5 separate regions of the Homo sapiens genome follow, and all the other regions are reported to be linked to region 3. The links are microRNA targets in miRTarBase. Many come from high-throughput screens and were not tested one by one. Region 3 holds a microRNA gene; each other region holds the end of a gene's coding sequence. Distances are between the middles of the regions.

Region 1 (4,119 bases), not on the chromosome of region 3:
ATTCTTTATCATAATAATTTCTAATTGTATAATGTTTGAAACTTTCACAATCTTTCTATCTTGGTGAACACTGGCAAAGACATTCTGGGAGTTATTCAGGAGAGATTCACTGCAGAAAGTACACAGCCATATATCAGAGAAGGGACACTTTCTAACAGGGATCCTTTTAGAACCTGACTCAAGATTCTTTTGTCTTTGAAATATCTAAGCAGCCAGCCAAACCAGAACAGCCAAACTCCAAAAGCCCAGAGTTTGACTGCACCACTGAGATCACTCAAGTAATCTCTACCCTCCTTTCTCTGCCATAAAAGCCCCACCCTGGGTTTCCCCTCACTTTGGTTCTTTCTCAAGTTTCTCACCAGCAGAGCTGAAGGAGAAGTGGTCTTTCATCCAGGTGGCTGGGGTAATATAGAGGAATCTGGGTATAAGGTTGCAAAGGCCATCAGGCCCCTTAGCTGCAATTCCCTCTTGTATCCTGCTTCCTCAAACCAGGGCTAGACCAAAGACTTCAAAATATGTGCACGCGCGCACACATACGGGTACCAAGGGTAAATTTGTAATTTGCCCTCTAAGCCCCAGAATTCAAGCTTTCTCATTCTTTCATGGGGACCATGTGAGAATTCTCCAAGATATTTGTGGGGGCCTTACCCACAAATATATAAATAGATAGATAATGGCTTTTACCTCCTTCATCTGTCCATAGCTATAAATGCCCACAGGCTTTGTTGGAGAGTTCTCCAGGCTGAAGGACAGTTTTCCTGAATGTGACACTAGCCGAGAGGTCAGAATTAATTACATTCCTTGGTGTCACCTGACCCACAGGAAACTTGCGTATCTTTGCCACCCCAAATTGTGAGACTACAGACTGAACTACTGCAAGTCTAATCGCCTCCCCTCCCCACCCCACCTTCCCTTTTATTTTCCTGATAAAGTAGGCAGAAAGCAGATGAACAAGTTTGCTGCCTAAATTAACACCCAATCTGGAAATAAAATACAAGTCTTTCCTTCCTGAAGGCATCTTCAATCACTACCAGTGATTCCTTTGGCAGAAAGCACAATTTTGGGAGCTAGTTCTACGACTTCTTAATCATCCTTCAAGTTAGGTCTGGGTGTGTGCATGGAGGCAGTGGGTGGTGGGGTTTTCTGATTCTAGTCATTGTCAGATTTCTTTAAAAAGTGAAGTACTTAGCGTTCCCTTGACCCATCTTTGACTCCTCCCTAGTTGCTGTTCTTTGAGTAATAGGAAAAGCCCAACACAACCTCCTGTTATACATAAATACAATTTTTTAAAACCAGCACATATATACATGATAGATGGAAATAAACAGTACTGCATACAGTAGTTGTAAGTATACACAAATAAAGATACCTTTGCATTGTATTCATATACCACGTTTATAGACATGTGAACTTGCTGCAAAACAAGCAGAAAATAGGAAGAGAAAATCAGGTTATCTACAGAATCACTAGTCATCAAATTCACGTTAAGAATAGGCAGTAAGATTTCATGATCTCAATAAAAATCTCAATAAAGCTGTTGCCCTAAAAAAATTTACAGTGAGACAATAAAACAGGGAGGTAAGGGAGGAAAGACAAATATTCCTATGTCTTAAAAAAAAGGTAAAGCAAGTTAGCCTCCTGGCACTGAATCATTTGCAGAAAAAAATAAAAATAGTTGTTCAAGTATATGAGAAGGCTTTGTACCAATCTCAGACATCCAATACTTTATATTTCTTAGAGAGAAAGTGAAGGCTTTGTACCAATCTCAAACATCTAATACTTTATATTTCTTAGAGAGAAAGTAAGGGAATTTAGTTCTCTTTTAATATGTACTCTTAATTCCCTCTTAATTTCTTCCAGACTACTTTAAGTTTTTATAGAAATAAATATAAAATCACCACATTGCCTTTTGAAATTAAAAATGGGAAACACAATACTTTATTCAATCAATAAAACAAACTGTAAAACATTTTAAAATCCCTTAGTTCTAGAATATGGTCAGATAAGAAAGAGGGCATATAATTTGTCAGTGGGAGAAATTAAACCACTGTCTTCTAAATCTATCCACCATGATAAGGTTTTTTGTTTTTGAAAAGCTGTAAGATTAAAACAAACACACAATAAAACATAATCCAATTAAGGTTTCAGGACTAAATATGAACCTTTCCTCTACTTTCAAAGGTTTGGAGGATCCTTGAAACTTCCATTACCAAAAGGTTAAATTATTAGTAACATTCTGAATCACTAAATAGCCTTCCTTTCCTTAACTTTGAATATCACATTTATTTGAAACGAAGCACTTACTGTAAATTGCTACCCTGTCTAGGAAAAGATATTTTCTTCATGGATTCTGTCATGTTTTGATGCTAAAGAACCTGTTTTATCGGACTAATTTGCTTTCGATTATTCTAAATGAGTTCACAGACACAAGAGCAGATATTTGTGGCATTTTTCTGAATCATCTCCAAACAAAATAGAGGTTGTTAAATCTAATTGAGGTGCCAATAATTTCTGACTTTGTCCCAGAGCACCTTAAAGGCAATCAGTTCTAGCAAAATCTAGAAACCACCTAACATAAACTTGTCAGTATGGCCCAATCGCCCATCCTTATGAAATCAGAATTTATCGGCCGGGCGCAGCAGGTCACGCCTGTAATCCCAGCACTTTGAGAGGCCGAGGTGGGAGGGTCATCTGATGTCAGGAGTTCAAGATGAGCCTGGCCAACATGGTGAAACCCCATCTCTACTATAAATACAAAAATTAGCCAGGCATGGTGGTGGGTGCCTGTAATCTCAGTTACTCGGAAGACTGAGGCAAGAGAATCACTTGAACCCAGGAGGTACAGGTTGCAGTGAGCAGAGATTGCACCAATGCACTCCAGCCTGGGCAACAGAGCAAGACCCTGCCTCAAAAATAAATAAGTAAATAAATTTATCAATATGAATCCAAGGCCATAACACCATTACAAAATAAGTGTTCCCTTCCATCTTTGTCTAAACATGCACCTACAAAACAAACAACATCAACTTCCAACCTAACCACTCTGGATCAGTTTAACAAACTTCATACCCTACTGACCTGTCCCCTGCATTTGAATTCTAAGCCTACCCCTTTGAATTCACTTCCTTTCACTGACCTTGTCTATTTCAAAGAAACCATCTCCCATCCTGAAGTTGTCCTACAATCTTAACATGCTAATGAAATACAAGAAGAAGACACAAAATATAAGATCAAATGTTTTAATATTAGAATCAACAGATTTAAAATTATATTTTAATAAATACGACAAATATGAGGAAAAATAGAATTATAAAAACTGTACACATTCTTAATTGAAAATATACATATAGGCAATTTATATAGAAAATTGCTGTTTCACTCATAACTTCTCATACTTCCATAACTGTAACTAGACAGAAAGTTTAAAGTGAAATAGCAAATTCCTCACACTCAATGCTTATATGCATACTTTGAACCAATACCTTACATATCAATATTTAAAGCTTTTAATGTGATAAGTGAGCTTGCTTCTTGCTTGTTAATTTGTCTAATCTAGGTTGGATTGATGACAATGCTACCCTCAGGGGATAATGTATATTTAAACTGTTTCTATGTTTTGTTTTAATAACACTTAAAGTAGAGAATCCGGTCTCACAGAGGTATGTTGAGGGGAAAAGAAGCAGCAATTTTAAAGCAATCTCAGCAAGCTCAGGATAGTCATTTTTAGCTTTTATCCAAAATGAAGGAAGTGATGCTGTATTTTCAAAACTGATTTTCAATCCTTCGTCGGTAGCCAGCTTCAACAACTTATCCTGTAGAGTTACAGTTAAATTTAAGTTATCTTTTGATGAAAGAAATGGATTTTGGATCCACAAATTTCCTATGCGTGGATCTTCTTTTGATGGAAAATAAAATTCAAAACATTCTAACAAATTTGTAAGATGTTCACTGATAACTTTTCGCAGATGTGCAATATCAAGATCATTACCTACTTCATTGATAATTGTTGTTAAATTATGAAACATGTCATAACAATCTGTAGAAATTCTGTTTTTCCAAGCTTCTAACTTCTGTTTTTGTCCTTCAACTTTATCTGCCATTGAAAAATAAGTTGCATTC
Region 2 (4,119 bases), 37 Mb from region 3:
GGGCTGATGCTATGGCCAAGGACCGCAGTGAGGAGGAACGTACCACTGAGGCAGAGAAGAATGAGCGTGTGCAGAAGCACCTGAAGGTATACAAGTAGGGCCAAGGGGCAAGGAAACTATATGCATTGATTTAGTAGCCCATGGCATTCCCTAGACCATCATGGGGGATAGGTATAAGATCCTGTCCCAGTGTTGTATGGGAGCCCAAGCCGTTCTTAAGTGACAGCTTTAAGGATAGGCACCTCTCACTTATTAATCAGACCTTGGGCTATCTCTTCCCTTTTTGAGATTTTCTCTCTGCCCCACCTCCCACTCACTCCATTCACCTCTTACATTAAGAAAATATCTAGCTGACAAAATTCCCACCTGAATCTTTTGTATGTTGTTCTACTCTTAAAGGATACCCATTATCAACTGGTCCCCTAAGTTTATTTATTTTTTTTTAATATTCTTGCCCCACTGCAGTTCTAACAGAGTTGGAAATGACTCTCAATATTTATATATAGAGAGAAAGGGTGAGGAAGAAAGAAGGAAACAGAAGAGAAGGGAAGTCTGGTCAAATAACAGGAGGTAAAATGAGAGAAAGCCATTGACCTCTGTGTTCCCATACATCCTCACAGGCCCTCACTTCGGAGCTGGCCAATGCCAGAGATGAGTCCAAGAAGACTGCCAATGACATGATCCATGCTGAGAACATGCGACTGGGCCGAGACAAATACAAGACCCTGCGCCAGATCCGGCAGGGCAACACCAAGCAGCGCATTGACGAATTTGAGTCTATGTAATGGGCACCCAGCCTCTAGGGACCCCTCCTCCCTTTTTCCTTGTCCCCACACTCCTACACCTAACTCACCTAACTCATACTGTGCTGGAGCCACTAACTAGAGCAGCCCTGGAGTCATGCCAAGCATTTAATGTAGCCATGGGACCAAACCTAGCCCCTTAGCCCCCACCCACTTCCCTGGGCAAATGAATGGCTCACTATGGTGCCAATGGAACCTCCTTTCTCTTCTCTGTTCCATTGAATCTGTATGGCTAGAATATCCTACTTCTCCAGCCTAGAGGTACTTTCCACTTGATTTTGCAAATGCCCTTACACTTACTGTTGTCCTATGGGAGTCAAGTGTGGAGTAGGTTGGAAGCTAGCTCCCCTCCTCTCCCCTACCACTGTCTTCTTCAGGGTCCTGAGATTTACACGGTTGGAGTGTTATGCGGTCTAGGGAATGAGACAGGACCTAGGATATCTTCTCCAGGATGTCAACTGACCTAAAATTTGCCCTCCCATCCCGTTTAGAGTTATTTAGGCTTTGTAACGATTGGGGGATAAAAAGATGTTCAGTCATTTTTGTTTCTACCTCCCAGATCGGATCTGTTGCAAACTCAGCCTCAATAAGCCTTGTCGTTGACTTTAGGGACTCAATTTCTCCCCAGGGTGGATGGGGGAAATGGTGCCTTCAAGACCTTCACCAAACATACTAGAAGGGCATTGGCCATTCTATTGTGGCAAGGCTGAGTAGAAGATCCTACCCCAATTCCTTGTAGGAGTATAGGCCGGTCTAAAGTGAGCTCTATGGGCAGATCTACCCCTTACTTATTATTCCAGATCTGCAGTCACTTCGTGGGATCTGCCCCTCCCTGCTTCAATACCCAAATCCTCTCCAGCTATAACAGTAGGGATGAGTACCCAAAAGCTCAGCCAGCCCCATCAGGACTCTTGTGAAAAGAGAGGATATGTTCACACCTAGCGTCAGTATTTTCCCTGCTAGGGGTTTTAGGTCTCTTCCCCTCTCAGAGCTACTTGGGCCATAGCTCCTGCTCCACAGCCATCCCAGCCTTGGCATCTAGAGCTTGATGCCAGTAGGCTCAACTAGGGAGTGAGTGCAAAAAGCTGAGTATGGTGAGAGAAGCCTGTGCCCTGATCCAAGTTTACTCAACCCTCTCAGGTGACCAAAATCCCCTTCTCATCACTCCCCTCCAAAGAGGTGACTGGGCCCTGCCTCTGTTTGACAAACCTCTAACCCAGGTCTTGACACCAGCTGTTCTGTCCCTTGGAGCTGTAAACCAGAGAGCTGCTGGGGATTCTGGCCTAGTCCCTTCCACACCCCCACCCCTTGCTCTCAACCCAGGAGCATCCACCTCCTTCTCTGTCTCATGTGTGCTCTTCTTCTTTCTACAGTATTATGTACTCTACTGATATCTAAATATTGATTTCTGCCTTCCTTGCTAATGCACCATTAGAAGATATTAGTCTTGGGGCAGGATGATTTTGGCCTCATTACTTTACCACCCCCACACCTGGAAAGCATATACTATATTACAAAATGACATTTTGCCAAAATTATTAATATAAGAAGCTTTCAGTATTAGTGATGTCATCTGTCACTATAGGTCATACAATCCATTCTTAAAGTACTTGTTATTTGTTTTTATTATTACTGTTTGTCTTCTCCCCAGGGTTCAGTCCTCAAGGGGCCATCCTGTCCCACCATGCAGTGCCCCTAGCTTAGAGCCTCCCTCAATTCCCCCTGGCCACCACCCCCCACTCTGTGCCTGACCTTGAGGAGTCTTGTGTGCATTGCTGTGAATTAGCTCACTTGGTGATATGTCCTATATTGGCTAAATTGAAACCTGGAATTGTGGGGCAATCTATTAATAGCTGCCTTAAAGTCAGTAACTTACCCTTAGGGAGGCTGGGGGAAAAGGTTAGATTTTGTATTCAGGGGTTTTTTGTGTACTTTTTGGGTTTTTTAAAAATTGTTTTTGGAGGGGTTTATGCTCAATCCATGTTCTATTTCAGTGCCAATAAAATTTAGGAAGACTTCACAGTGACTCAATCGTTCTTTGTGGTATGAGTGGGTAGCTGTAAGATATTTCACTGCAGTTTCTATTTATATATTACCTTCTTATCTTTGGTCTCATTTCATCTATACCTCAGTTCTATGGAGAGGGGTGATATGACTATCCCCATTTTATATAGGAGAGAATGGGCTCAAAAAAGTATAATAACTTCCCAAGGTCACAGGACTGTCTAACTTAATAGTCTGTGCCCTTTCGGTAGTTCCAGGCCAACTTTTCTACTGTGGGTGTGGATCCTGCATTGACCATGTGATGCTCCTGGACTTGCCTGGCATTGGGACCTAAGAGGTACTTATTTGTATCTCTTGATTTCTCTTGGGATGCTCAGGCCCTGTCCTGCCTCTTTGTCAGGAAGGTCTTCAGGCTTTTCCTGCCTCCTACTACCCTCACATATTGTAGTGCCAATAAAGGTCAGGGAAACTACCTTGGGCCCTGTTGCAGAAGGCAGTGGGGAATGGAGTGTGAAGTGAGGATGGAGAGTGTGTGTATGTACAAAAGCTATTGGGTAGTACTTTATAGTTTATAAAACATGTATAAAACATTTTGTAGCCTAGATATGGTTATCCTCATTTTGCAGATGAGGAAACTGAGGCCAGACAAACCTTCTAAACTGTCCTGGACCTGGCACTCTCACTTACCACTTTCCTTCCTGGTAAGCCAACACTTGCAAGGAAAAGTAAGTTATCATATATTTCCTTCCTTCCTTCCTTCCTTCCTTCCTTCCTTCCTTCCTTCCTTCCTTCCTTCCTTCCTTCCTTCCCTCCTTCCCTCCTTCCCTCCTTCCTCTCCCTTCCTTCCTTCCTTCCTTCCTTCCTTCCTTCCTTCCTTCCTTCCTTCCTTCCTTCCTTCCTTCCTTCCTTTCTTTCTCTCTCTCTCTCTGTCTCTCTCTCTCTCTTACTCTTTTTATGGAGTCTCTGTTGCCCACTCTGGAGTGGAGTGGTGCAATCCTGCCTCATTGCAACCTTTAAGCGATTCTCCTCCTGCCTCAGCCTCCGTAGGAGGTGGGACTACAGACACACACCATCATGCCTGGCTAATTTTTGTATTTTTAGTAGAGATGGGGTTTCACCATGTTGGCCAGGCTGGTCTTGAACTCCTGGCCTCAAGTGATCTGCCTGCCTCGGCCTCCCAAAGTGCTGGGATTACAGGTGGGAGCCCATGAGGCCTGGCCCAGTTATCGTATGTTTTGTGAGCTTTAAATCCTTAACAACAACCCTTTGAGGCAGTGGCTCAAAAACTTGTCTGCACATTAGAATCCTTTAA
Region 3 (4,119 bases):
GAGCAAGTTACATCTTACATGGATGCCGGCAGGCAAAGAGAGAGTGAGAAGCCAGGTGAAACGGGTTTCTCCTTATAAAACCATCAGATCTTGAGACTTATTCACTACCACAAGAACAGTATGGGGGAAACCGCTGCCATGATTCAATTATCTCCCACCAGGTCCCTCCCACAAAAATGGGAATTATGACAGATACAATTCAAGATGAGATTTGGGCGGGGACAAAGCTAAATTATATCAGTATCTTTTGAACATATCATCTTATATTGTTTTCTTAGTGGTTGCTCTAGGTGTTACAATGCATGTAAGTAAGCTATCACTTCTATTAATGGTTTATCACTTTGAGTGAAGTGTAGAAATCTTACTACCATTTAGGTCCTTTTACCTTTCCTAAATTTTAAATATAATGATCTTAATTATTTACTCTAGATACATTGAGCATCACATCTAATGATGTCATAATTTTTGCTTCAAACATCAAATATAGTGTATGAAACTCATGAGAAGACTAGTCTTCAATATATTACCCCATTCTTACTCATTCTGATGCTTTTCTTTCCTTTTTGAAGTTCCAAGCCTTCATTTGTTATCATTTCCTTTCTGTTTAGAGAACTTCCTTTAGCCTTTCATTAAGGGTGCTTTTACTTGCAACAAAGTATCATAAGTTTCCTTCTTGTAGGTTTCCTTCACCTGAGAATGTCTTTATTTCCCGTTTATTCCTGAAGAATATTTTTGCTGGATGCAGAATTCTGGGTTGATATTTACTTCCTTTCAGTACTTGAAAAATCTTGCACCACGCCTTCTAAATTGCATAGTTTTAGGGTGGGAAATTTACTGCAATTCAAGGTGGTATTCCTCTATATGCAATATGTTGTTTCTGTCTGTCTGCTTTTAATTCTTTTCTTTTTGTTTAGTTCTCACAAGTTTAATTTTGTTGTGTCTTTGCATACATTTTTTTAGGTTTATCCTACTTGGAGTTTCCTCAGCTTTTTGAATCTATAGGATATGGCTTTCACTAAATTTGGAGAGTTTTCAACCATTATTTCTTTAAATGTTTTTGTTCTTCTCAGACTCTGATGATACAAATGTTAGATCTTTGTTATTGTCCTAAAAGTTCCCTGATACTTTGTTTATTTTCTGCCCGGTCTCTTCTCTCCCCTGAGTTGTTATTGTCCTAAAGTTCCCTGATACTTTGTTCATTTTCTGCCAGGTCTCTTTTCTCCCCTGAGTTGAGATAAATTTCAAACTGAGTGCATTCCAATAATCTGTACTTAAGTTCACTGATTCTATCTTCTTGTGATCTCCAATGTACTCTTGAGCCCACCTATTGAATTTATTTTAATTACTACACTTTTCAGTTCTATGATTTCCATTTTGTTCTTTTTTATAATTTCTATTTCTTTGCTGAGGTTTTCTATTTTTTTCCTTTGTTTCAAGAGTATATGTAATTGCTTGTTGACACATTTTGATGATGGCTGCTTTAAAAACCTTATCAGATAATGCGAAGATCTGATTCACCTTGCTTTCAACCACCTTGGTGTTTTATCAGTTCGTTGGTTCTTTTTATTCATGCTGTGATTTTTCTGATTGTTCGTATAGCAAGTGATTTTTCCATTATAGTCTAGACATTTTAGATATTACATTATGAGACTATGGATCCTATTTCATCTCCTCTTTTTAGCAGACAATTGCCTGTTCAAGTGTAGCATGAAGGCAGTTTGCCATGCATATTCTGTTTCCAACTGAACCCCACCAACACTATCATGACAAAAGTGGGGCAGTGACTCACATTGCCTCACTACAGATAAGTGGGGTAGAGGTTTAGCCACACCTTTGGCCCTGTTAACACCATCTTGATGAAAGTAGGACACTGAGTCACATTGCTTCATTGCCTCTGAGTAGGAGTATAAGCTCGACTTCCCACTGGACACTCTGACACCAGCAAGGGGTAAGGAGAGGACTGATGCATACCTCTTTGTTACTACAGATGGGGGCAGAAGCTCACTGTCTGCTAAACCCCATTAATACCAGGGAAGCACAGGGTTTGAGAAAGCAGAGTGTCAACCAGCTCTACATCCTACCACCTCATTCAGCTTCATTTATGCAGGTGGAAATAGAGGGTCAGTTCCCTACTGAGCCCTACTGACATCAAGGCCCAGTGGGGAGCTGAGGTTCAACTCCCACCTGGCATCAATGCCTGGCATCAATGAAATGCTTGGTGACCCAAATTTGTACTGCCTTCCTAAGTCTCACTAATCCTGGGTACAGAGGAGGCTCAGCTGCCTGCTGGACCCCACGGCCACTACACTGGCTGGGGAATCAGAATACTGCCTGAGACAGCCAGGGAGAGGCAAAAAGACCAGGTCCCTGCTCAGTCCTGCTAACACTATCTTGGCAGAGGAATTGGAGCACTTCCTGGTTCTGCTGAATGGAAGCAGAATTTCAACTGCCCCATTAACTTGCTGACAAAAGTGCTGTCTGCTTCCACCAGGCAGCAGTGGGAAGATTAGCTCCACATTTAGAAAATTAGGTCCGTGCTCAGCCCCACCCTAGGAAAAGGAAGGAAGAAATTCGAGTCCCACCACCTGCTTTCATAGAGTAGGGTAGTGGTGTGAAAATCAACTCCCCACTAAGTTTCACTGAAATCCCAAAAGCAGGGGCATTTTTTTCTATTGATGTTTGGCTGAGGGTGTATGTATTGCCAAAAAGGTTTTTTTTATTGTTGGGACACCCCATTTCTGGTCAATTAGCTAGGGAAGAAAGTACTTTTTTTGGAGTTTTCTTTTATCCATGGCTATTGGCAGTTCCGGGTTAGATGCTTCTGAAGAGCCCTGTCTGGGATATATGGGCTATATTAAGGAAACGCAGATAACACATCACCGTTTTATTCTTCAAGTCCCAAGGTCCCTAGGTAGTCCACCCCTTTCAGCATTTTCCTATGCTTAGTGCTATATCCAAAGATCTAGGAAAATATGTATCATATGAAATTCAAGTGATATGTCAACTTGCAACATTTGAATTAATTTATATTCTAGACAACCTTTTTAGGTCCTCTTAAAATTTAAGTTGACAGTGAAGTGCCCATTCGAGTGGGTAAATTTTGATATAAAAGGTCAGTGCTACTCATATTTTCCCTGGAAAATCCCCTAAGAATATCAAAGTATTTCTTGTTTTCCCCCATATCTTCCAAACATTTTAATGCTTCTAAGAGCTGATTATGGTAGAATTTTTTTAAGTATACAATCGTCTAAAAATAGCTCTGATTCTATGAATTAGGAAAGAAAAAGGAAAGAGAACCATTAACAGTCCAATCAGATAGTTAAATAAATAAATTTTTGCTAGAAAGAACTGAGAAAGTGGCATCATGTAACTAACTTCAAAATAATACATGGATAAAAATATATATTACTAAAACTATAAATGTTTACAAAAACGTCCGTTAAAAATAAAAACAAGGCCAGCGCGGTGGCTCACGCCTGTAATCCCAACACTTTGGGAGCCCAAGGCGGGCGAATCACTAGGTCGGGAGTTCGAGACCAGCCTGGCCAACATGGTGAAAACCCGCCTCTACTAAAAATACGAAAAATTAGCTGGGCATGGTGGCACATGCCTGTAATCCCAGCTACTCGGGAGGCTGAGGCAGGAGAATCGCTTGAACCCGGGAGGCAGAGGTTGCAGTGAGCCGAGATCACACCACTGCACTCCAGCCCCGGCGACAGAGTGAGACTATGTCTCAAAAATAAATAAATAAATATAAATTAATTAATTAACTAATTAATTAAATAAAATCAAAACAGACAATCCCGGCCAGGCGCAGTGGCTCATGCCTGTAACCTCAGCACTCTGGGAGGCCGTGGTGGGCAGATCACTTGAGATCAGAAGTTCAAGACCAGCCTGGGCAACAAGGTGAAACCCCATCTCAACTAAAAATACAAAAATTAGCAGGGCATGGTGGCGGGTGCCTGTCATACCAGCTACTTGGGAGGCTGAGGCAGGAGAATTGCTTGAACCCAGGAGGCAGAGGTTGCAGTTGAGCCCAGATCATGCCACTGCACTCCAGCCTGGGCTACAGAGTGAGACTCCGTCTTAAAAAAAAAAAAAAAAAAAAAAGACAATCAC
Region 4 (4,119 bases), not on the chromosome of region 3:
AGTCTTTGGCCAGAGCAGGAGCTTCTGGGCTAACATCAGGCTGGGTTGGGAGCTTCAGGGGACTTGCTAGTGGCAGGAACCAAACTGACTATCACAGGCCATGACATCTCAAACCCAGAGCTCCATTCCCTTCCCTCCCAGAGCTCAGAGGGGAAAAGCCCTTGGCTCCGTGCACTGGGGTATCAACTCACAGGGGCAGGAGATGAAGGATACACCAGTGAGGCAAACAGAAGACCGAAAGAATGTCTTATTCTTCCATTGTTTTCATTGAGAGCTCTGATTTTTAGAGCTGGAGATTATAGCAAGACCAGGGAAAAGAAATTAGGAATGGAGGAAGGTGAATGGAGGAAGGTAGATGGAGGAAGAGGGAGATGAGAGGAAGGAATGAGTGACCTGGCCTGGAAATCTGAGGTTTTCTGGAAATCAGGAGTTTCTGGGAGGGAGAGTGGAAAGAGGGGAGGAGAAATTTGAATTGGGGGCAAGGTTGGAACTTTCTAAGAGGCAGTCGTGTGGCCCAAGACACTCCCAAGACACTGGGGGAGCCCTGAGGGCAGAAGCCTGGTTAGGAGGTGAAGTAATTCTTGGCAAAGCCTTTTTGACACAGGAAGGCATGGAGCCAGGAGCCTGGAGCAAGACAGGGAAGGTGGAGATGCAGGAGGGATTGTGAAAGCTTCAATGCCATCAGAGGCCAAGGAAACCAGGCAGAACTTTCAGGGCAGGAGAGAACCTGTGCAGATTCCAGTTCATTTCTGTTAGAGCAACAGAGATGTGCAAAAATGAATAAAACAAGGAGAGGGAAATCTTGGGCTTTAGGCTTCCTTTGTGAGCAGGAGGGAGGCTTTTACTGTAAGGGTGGATGGTACTTCTATGTATGGTAGAGGCCACCAGCCTGGTTGGGCTAGAAATCATGGCATCTAGGTTCCAGCCCCAGAAGCCTCTTTTATCTGCTACGTGAACTTGCCTATTGATGTGGCTTTGCTTGTTCCATGAAGATGGATGGGACAGCTGAATAAATGGGATACCTCTCTGTCCCAGCTATGACATAGTTTTCTGGATTTTGAAATGTGGGACTGAATTGGAGCAAGTCTGTAGACCTATCTCTACTTCTTTTTTCTTCCCTCCTCCCCTCCCTCCCTCCCTCTCTCCCTCCCTTCATTCCTTGCTTCTAGACCCAAAGGTGAAGCAGAAGAAATCCTTGAAAAGAAGTAAGCATTGCAGTAGAATTTTCCAACCCAACTGACATCAGAGCCTTTCAGCCAGACAGTGGTAAGGCTGGGATGAGAAATGTCTTGGAATCAACTCATCAACAACCCCTGAGAGAGACAGAAACCCTGTCAGAGACAGGGCTTGGGGAGGACCCCTGGGGAAAAGTGTCACCCTGGGGGCTGGAGAACTTGGTGCTGAGAAGCTTTGACACTGGAGATGGGATCAGCTTTCTGGTTTGGTGTATACCTGCATGTAGACACCTGGGAAGGGCATTCTCAGCCACTCAGGTCCTTTCCCCTCACCACCAGCATCCTGCCTTCCAAGGGATGGCCACAGATTAGACGATTCAAAGGTGCTGGGCTCAGGGGCCCAGCTGGGAGCCACCTGCTCTATTCAGACTCACTTCTTCCTTTCCAACCCTCTTAGCCTCACCTTCTGGAACAAACTCTTATAAACCCCTGGGGACCAGCCCTTAAGAAGGTTTATGTGTCTGTTGGGAGGAAAGCAGAGAGGGTAGTCCCTGGCCTTCCAGCCGCACGACTCCAGGAATGCATCCCCAGTGTGGGGTCTGACAGTGGCTTTCACAACCCCCAGCCTCCATCCCCCTAAGATCCAGGGTGATGGTTTCCTGTTCCTGTTGGGAGGCACACCCTGCAGAGGGGAGAAGGAGATGAGAGCTTTGGAACTCTTGAAATCAGTGAAAGGACACAGTCCATTGCTTTCTCTGTGGTTTGTGGACTTGGTTAGATTAAAAATCTCCAGGGCTGACACCAATAAATTCTCCTTCTACACTCGCCTTTTTAAAGGGCCATGAGTGCAGAACTGAGGGCAGGTAAAACCCCATTTATAAGGGCACTGCTGTTGGATCTGACTGTTTTTAGGATCACACCTTCACCCAATAGCCTGGAGTTGATTCCCCCAGCCCCAACCCAGCGGGTGCCCTGGCCCTGAGAATGAGGGAACCCCTTCTTTCCCCCACCAGGCTCTCTGGTCTTGGGGGAGCGGATGCTGCTGAATTCACTGTCACCTCCCCAGGAGGCCGTCACACCATGCCAACCCCCAGGCTGGAGGCGGGGAAGAGGCTGAGGTGGGCGGGCAGTGGCGGTCCCCCAACAGAGCTGAGGACCATGGTCTACCAGGTACCCCAGTGCCTGCACAAAGGGATGATGCTGTGGGGACCTGCCCAGTTAGCCCCTAGGCCAGTCGCCTGGAGGACCTTTGTTTGCTTTTGCTAATAGGTCTTTGTCCCTTTGATCCAGAGGAGGCACGGATCTGAAGGATCAGCTAGGAGGAATAAAGTTGCAGGGAGGATGTGGGGGAAGGGGACACAGGCAGTAGGAGTGATCTCTGAACTGAGCAGGTAGACAGAGATGGGGAAGGAAGGATGAGCGGAGAGGATGCAGGACAACCACCTCTCATCCTCCTTGTCTGGGGGCTGAAAAGCTGCTCTCTAGAAACTTCTGTCTAGGTCCTGCCGGAGGTGCATGTGGGAACAGGTGGAGCCCTGCAGGATGCGAATGTTGAGCCCGAGACCCCGCACATCACAGTGGCCCTCCCCACCCTGGCTCTCTGGCCACCGCAGGTGCCTCCTGGGAGCAGAGCAGGGGTGGAGAAGGCAGCCTGAGTGGCAGTCATGGTCAGGTCTAGAGGCCTGGAGGGAGTGCGGAGATGATCGGGTGTCTGGGAGGGCCAGCACCCCATTGCTACTCCCCTCTGCGAAGGCTACAGCCAAAACCCCAGAAAACTCAAGGGTGAAATCCTCAGGGCCAGGGAAGGAGCACAGCCCGCTGAAAGGACAGGCCCAGGGTCCTTATGGGCGGGCAGTCAGCTGGAAGGGGGTGGAGTTCCCACCAATGGGGAGGCAGCTGAAGGAAGGGAACCCCTCCTGGTCCTGGAGTTGAGGGGAGGGGCACAGGGCCAGGGTTGGGCCCTCAGGGGTCAGCAAAGGAAGGGTCACTCAGTGGGGACCAGAGAGTTCCAGCAGGCAAGAAAAGAATCATTATTGTGCTTATGGACACAGCAGCTCCCTGGCTCTGAGAGAGCGAGCAGGCAGTTTTTAGGCACTAGGAGATTTCTGTGATGCGGTTCTAGATGAATGAATGAGACCGAGTAGCCTATCCGGTCAGCCCACTGATTGGACCCGCTGGCCCCTTCAAACCCAGGCAGCTTCAGACCACAGTCAAGCAAGGGTCTCTCTGCTGACAGAACCTGCAGCTGAGTCCCCCGGATGGGGAGAAGGAGGCGCGGGACGGAAAGGGAGTTGGTGAAGGTGGTCGGGGGTGAGAATGGGGCCTAGCCCCCTCCTCACTCCCCACTGATTCTTCTGGAGGAGCAAGAGCGATTGCTCTTGGTCCTGGGTCTAAGTGTATTGGACCAGGCCATCGGGGCTGTGTCCCCGGGGGTATGGCTTTTTGGGCAAAGGTGGCCCACCCCCACTTCCTACAGAGGGGACAAGGGAAGGGAGAGTGGCAAGGCTAGAAGCTCTGCTCCTGGCCCCTCCCGGCCCCCGCTCTGCTCTGCCACGCCCAGCAGCCCCGGCCCTGCCCCGCCGGTCACACGGTCACTTCGGTCTTGCTGGCTGTGTAGCAGGTGTGGTGGCCCGGGATGTAGTGCAGCTGCTCCACCGTGTTGTGTCTGCGTGAGGCAAAGGCATGACGCTTGGCTGCCGTCTGGCTCTGGCCCAGGGTGGCGTATGAGTTATTGGAGGCACTGGGATGAGAGTGCATCTTGCTCATGCGGTAGCGGTCCAGCACGGGTGTGGACACAAAGACGTCCGTGTGCGAGATGGCCCTGGACAGCGACTGCTCGGGAAAGGCCGTCCGCTCCGGGGACAGCAGCGGGTCCTGGGAGTGCAGGCGCTCCGTGGAGAGCAGCTGCTCGTCGGACAGGATGCGGTCGTAGGGCATGCTGAAC
Region 5 (4,119 bases), not on the chromosome of region 3:
TGTGTTCTTTTATTAGTTCCTTCCCAGTTCTCACAGTTATAGATCAAACCCGGCCTTGCTTTTAGAAGCACCTGGGGAGCTCTTAAAAATGCACAAGGCTGAGACCTACTGAAGCAGGGCCCAAGAATCTTTATTTTAAGCACTCCCCTGACCCCCAGTGATTCTGATGAAACCAGTCCATGGACTAACATTTGGAAACCATTAAAACTGAACTAGAGAATAGGGTGTAGACTATTCAGTAGTTCGAAGTCATTAATAAAGGAGGATTTGATACCACTTTATCAAGCACGTCACAGAATCCTACAGCAGTCGTTCTCAACCTCGGCCCCACTTTGGAATCTCCCAGGGGGCTTTTGAAAAATGCTGATGCCTGAGCCTCACCCTCAGAGATTCTGGTTGGAGTGGTCTGGGGTGTGGACTGGGCATCAGGATTAGCTGCCACCAGGGAAAGATGGACACTGAGAGTGAAGTCCCAGGAGAGGGTACGCAGGGTAGCACGCTTTGCTCTCCTTCCTTTTTCTCTAGAGACTTCTGGGAAGGAGCCCACCTGGAACTTCTGGAAGTACCTAGTAGCCCCAGATGGAAAGGTGGTAGGGGCTTGGGACCCAACTGTGTCAGTGGAGGAGGTCAGACCCCAGATCACAGCGCTCGTGAGGAAGCTCATCCTACTGAAGCGAGAAGACTTATAACCACCGCGTCTCCTCCTCCACCACCTCATCCCGCCCACCTGTGTGGGGCTGACCAATGCAAACTCAAATGGTGCTTCAAAGGGAGAGACCCACTGACTCTCCTTCCTTTACTCTTATGCCATTGGTCCCATCATTCTTGTGGGGGAAAAATTCTAGTATTTTGATTATTTGAATCTTACAGCAACAAATAGGAACTCCTGGCCAATGAGAGCTCTTGACCAGTGAATCACCAGCCGATACGAACGTCTTGCCAACAAAAATGTGTGGCAAATAGAAGTATATCAAGCAATAATCTCCCACCCAAGGCTTCTGTAAACTGGGACCAATGATTACCTCATAGGGCTGTTGTGAGGATTAGGATGAAATACCTGTGAAAGTGCCTAGGCAGTGCCAGCCAAATAGGAGGCATTCAATGAACATTTTTTGCATATAAACCAAAAAATAACTTGTTATCAATAAAAACTTGCATCCAACATGAATTTCCAGCCGATGATAATCCAGGCCAAAGGTTTAGTTGTTGTTATTTCCTCTGTATTATTTTCTTCATTACAAAAGAAATGCAAGTTCATTGTAACAATCCAAACAATACCTCACGATATAAAATAAAAATGAAAGTATCCTCCTCATTTTCCATAGTCTCCCTCCCTAGAGGTAAACAGTGTTAGCAGTTTGGTACAAAGGCTGCCAGGCCTTTGGTTAAGCCAATCATTATTGCCCAATAAGAACTCAGTGACCGGGCACGGTAGCTCACGCCTGTCATCCCAGCACTTTGGGAGGCCAACGTAGGTGGATCACCTGAGGTCAAGAGTTTGAGACCAGCCTGGCCAACATGGTGAAAACCCATCTCTACTAAAAATACAAAAATTAGGCTGGGCGCGGTGGCTCACGCTTGTAATCCCAGCACTTTGGGAGGCCAAGGCGGGCGGATCACGAGGTCAGGAGATCGAGACCAACCTCGCTAATACGGTGAAACCCCGTCTCTACTAAAAATACAAAAAATTAGCCGGGCGTGGTGGCGGGCGCTTGTAGTCCCAGCTACTCTGGAGGCTGAGGCAGGAGAATGGTGTGAACCCGGGAGGCGGAGCTTGCAGTGAGCAGAGATCGTGCCACTGCACTCCAGCCTGTGCACTCTAGCCTGGGCGACAGAGCAAGACTCCGTCTCAATAATAATAATAATAATAAAAATAAAAAAATAAAAATACAAAAATTAGCCTGGCATGACCGGGCACAGTGGCTCATGCCTGTAATCCCAGCACTTTGGGAGGCTGAGGCGGGTGGATCACCTGAGGTCAGGAGTTTGAGACCAGCCTGGCCAACATGGTGAAACCCCGTCTCTACAAAAATATAAAAATTAGTCGGGCATGATGGCAGGTGCCTGTAATCCCAGCTACTCTGGAGGCTGAGGCAGGAGAATCGCTTGAATCCGGGAGGCAGAGGTTGCTGTGAGCGGAGATAACGCCACTGCATTCTAGCCTGGGCAGCAGAGAGAGACTCTGTCTCAAAAAAAAAAAAAATTCACTGAGTAATCCACTAGCCAAAAGTACACCTCAATAACAAATAGGCAAAGGAGATGAATAGATAGTTCACGGAAGACTATAGATGCGTAATAAGGATACAAAAAGATGTCCAGCCTCATTGAAGTTGGAAAGTTTTTTGTTTGTTTGTTTTGTTTTTGTGATGGAGTCTAGCTCTGTCACCCAGGCTGGAGTGCAGTGGCACAGTCTCGGCTCACTGCAAGCTCTGCCTCCCAAGTTCACGCCATTCTGCCTCAGCCTCCCGAGTAGCTGGGACTACAGGCGCCCACCACCACGCTCAGCTAATTTTTTTTTTTTTGTATTTTTAGTAGAGGCGGGGTTTCATCATGTTAGCCAGGATGGTCTCAATCTCCTGACCCAGTGATCCGCCCGCCTCGGCCTCCCAAAGTGCTGGGATTACAGGCGTGAGCCACTATTCCCGGCCGAAAGATATTTTTTTAATGATAATACCCCTGGTTGGCAGGGATGTGAGGAAATGGGCATTCACATAAACTGTGGTACGATAAACTGGCACAAGTGTTTGGAGGGTGATTTGGCAATATCTTTTAAAACAAAATGCTCATACCTTTTGTTTTTGCTTTTTGTTTTGAGACAGGGTCACACTCTGTTGCCCAGGCTGAAGAAGAGTGGCTCGATCGTAGCTTACTGCATCCTTAGCCTCCTGAGTAACTAGGACTGCAGGCACACGCCACCATGCAACATAGTGGGACCCCACCTCTACAAAAAAATATTAGCTGGCCATGGCAGTGCATGCCTGTAGTCCCAGCTATCAGGAGGCTGAGGTGAGAGAATTGCTAGAGCCTGGGAGGTCAAGGCTGCAGCGAACCGTAACCATGCCACTGCACTCAGCCTGGGTGACAGAGGAGACCTTGCCTCAAATTATAAACTAATATGGTTATTAAAATGAATGAATGAAGTCTCCATATGCTACCATAGAAAGTTGTCCAAAAGTGAAAAAATGATAAGTTGTAAAACAGAATGAACACATTCACATACCCAGAAAAACCAGTATGAACAAGTGTAATGTTTTTATTAAAAATGTACAATGTTGCTGGGTGCATTAGGTGGCTCACGCCTGTAATCCCAGCACTTTGGGAGGCAGAGGTGGGAGGATTGCTTGAGCCCAGGAGTTCAAGACCAGTCTGGGCAACATGGCAAGACCGTGTCTCTGCAAAAAAATTTAAAAATTAGCCAGGCGTGGTCACTCACACCTGTAGTCCCAGCTACTCAGGAGGCTGAGGCAGGAGGATTGTTTGAGCCCAGGAGGTTGAGGCTGCAGTGAGCCGTGTTTGCGCCACTGTACTCCAGCCTGGGCAATGGGAGTGGACCCTGTCCCAAATTTTTAAAAAATTTACAATGTTAAGTGGGAGGGAAAGAGAGAGGGAAAAATATAGACCAAACTCTTAATGGTGGTTGTCTGCGAGGGGCTGAGGTAGGATAACAGGAGTCATTTTCATTAAGTTTCTGTAATGTTTGAATTTTGTATGTCAAATCCATATTTCACCTTTATATAAATGTGGAAAGGTGGCTAAAAATTGGGGTGCAGCCTGGGAAACACAGTGAGACTTCATCTCTACAAAAAATCAAAAAATTAGCCAGGTGTGATGGTGCACACCTATAGTCCCAGCTACTCAGGAGGCTGAGTGAGGAGAGTCACTGGAGCCTGGGAGTTTGAGGCTGCAGTGAGCTATGATCACGCCACTGCACTCCAACCTGAGCAACAGACCAAAATACTATAAAAAAAATGGGGTGATGGGCAGAGTCACTGGTAGATAATTCATTGGCCAATAAGAATTTCAGGTGTACTTTATCTAAGGTCACTCTTCTAGAAGTCTGGAGACTCAGATTCAAGTTCCTGTTGTGCCCCTGACTCACAGCAAATTCTTCCCTCTCTC

What was found. Region 3 holds the annotated microRNA hsa-miR-6134 (UGAGGUGGUAGGAUGUAGA, at 2,070-2,088, opposite strand). A microRNA usually pairs through its seed, bases 2 to 8, with sites in the 3' UTR of a target mRNA and lowers its output. Matches are read on the target gene's strand: a 7mer-m8 pairs with bases 2 to 8, a 7mer-A1 pairs with bases 2 to 7 and ends in A, and an 8mer does both.
Region 1: the mRNA of SCAND3 is a reported target of hsa-miR-6134. Seed matches in the 3' UTR shown: 7mer-m8 at 2,676-2,682 and 7mer-A1 at 2,495-2,501.
Region 2: miRTarBase lists MSN as a target of hsa-miR-6134. Seed matches in the 3' UTR shown: 7mer-m8 at 2,133-2,139.
Region 4: miRTarBase lists SHISA6 as a target of hsa-miR-6134. Seed matches in the 3' UTR shown: 8mer at 2,290-2,297.
Region 5: the mRNA of GPX7 is a reported target of hsa-miR-6134. Seed matches in the 3' UTR shown: 8mer at 710-717.

The regions. Positions count from the first base shown.
Region 1 is chr6:28,568,405-28,572,523 of GRCh38, forward strand. SCAND3 (SCAN domain containing 3) reads right to left here. Exons shown (of 4, transcript NM_052923.2): 4 at 2,131-4,119. The coding sequence ends at 3,507. Among named protein-coding and RNA genes, the nearest start is that of SCAND3, 17 kb to the right of the region's middle.
Region 2 is chrX:65,739,109-65,743,227 of GRCh38, forward strand. It overlaps MSN (moesin), which reads left to right. Exons shown (of 13, transcript NM_002444.3): 12 at 1-86; 13 at 621-2,823. The coding sequence ends at 785. Among named protein-coding and RNA genes, the nearest start is that of MSN, 74 kb to the left of the region's middle.
Region 3 is chrX:28,493,506-28,497,624 of GRCh38, forward strand. It overlaps MIR6134 (microRNA 6134), which reads right to left and starts at 2,158; the gene lies at 2,050-2,158.
Region 4 is chr17:11,557,944-11,562,062 of GRCh38, reverse strand. It overlaps SHISA6 (shisa family member 6), which reads right to left. Exons shown (of 6, transcript NM_207386.4): 6 at 1-4,119. The coding sequence ends at 3,759. Among named protein-coding and RNA genes, the nearest start is that of DNAH9, 38 kb to the left of the region's middle.
Region 5 is chr1:52,607,737-52,611,855 of GRCh38, forward strand. GPX7 (glutathione peroxidase 7) reads left to right here. Exons shown (of 3, transcript NM_015696.5): 3 at 526-1,315. The coding sequence ends at 689. Among named protein-coding and RNA genes, the nearest start is that of GPX7, 7.4 kb to the left of the region's middle.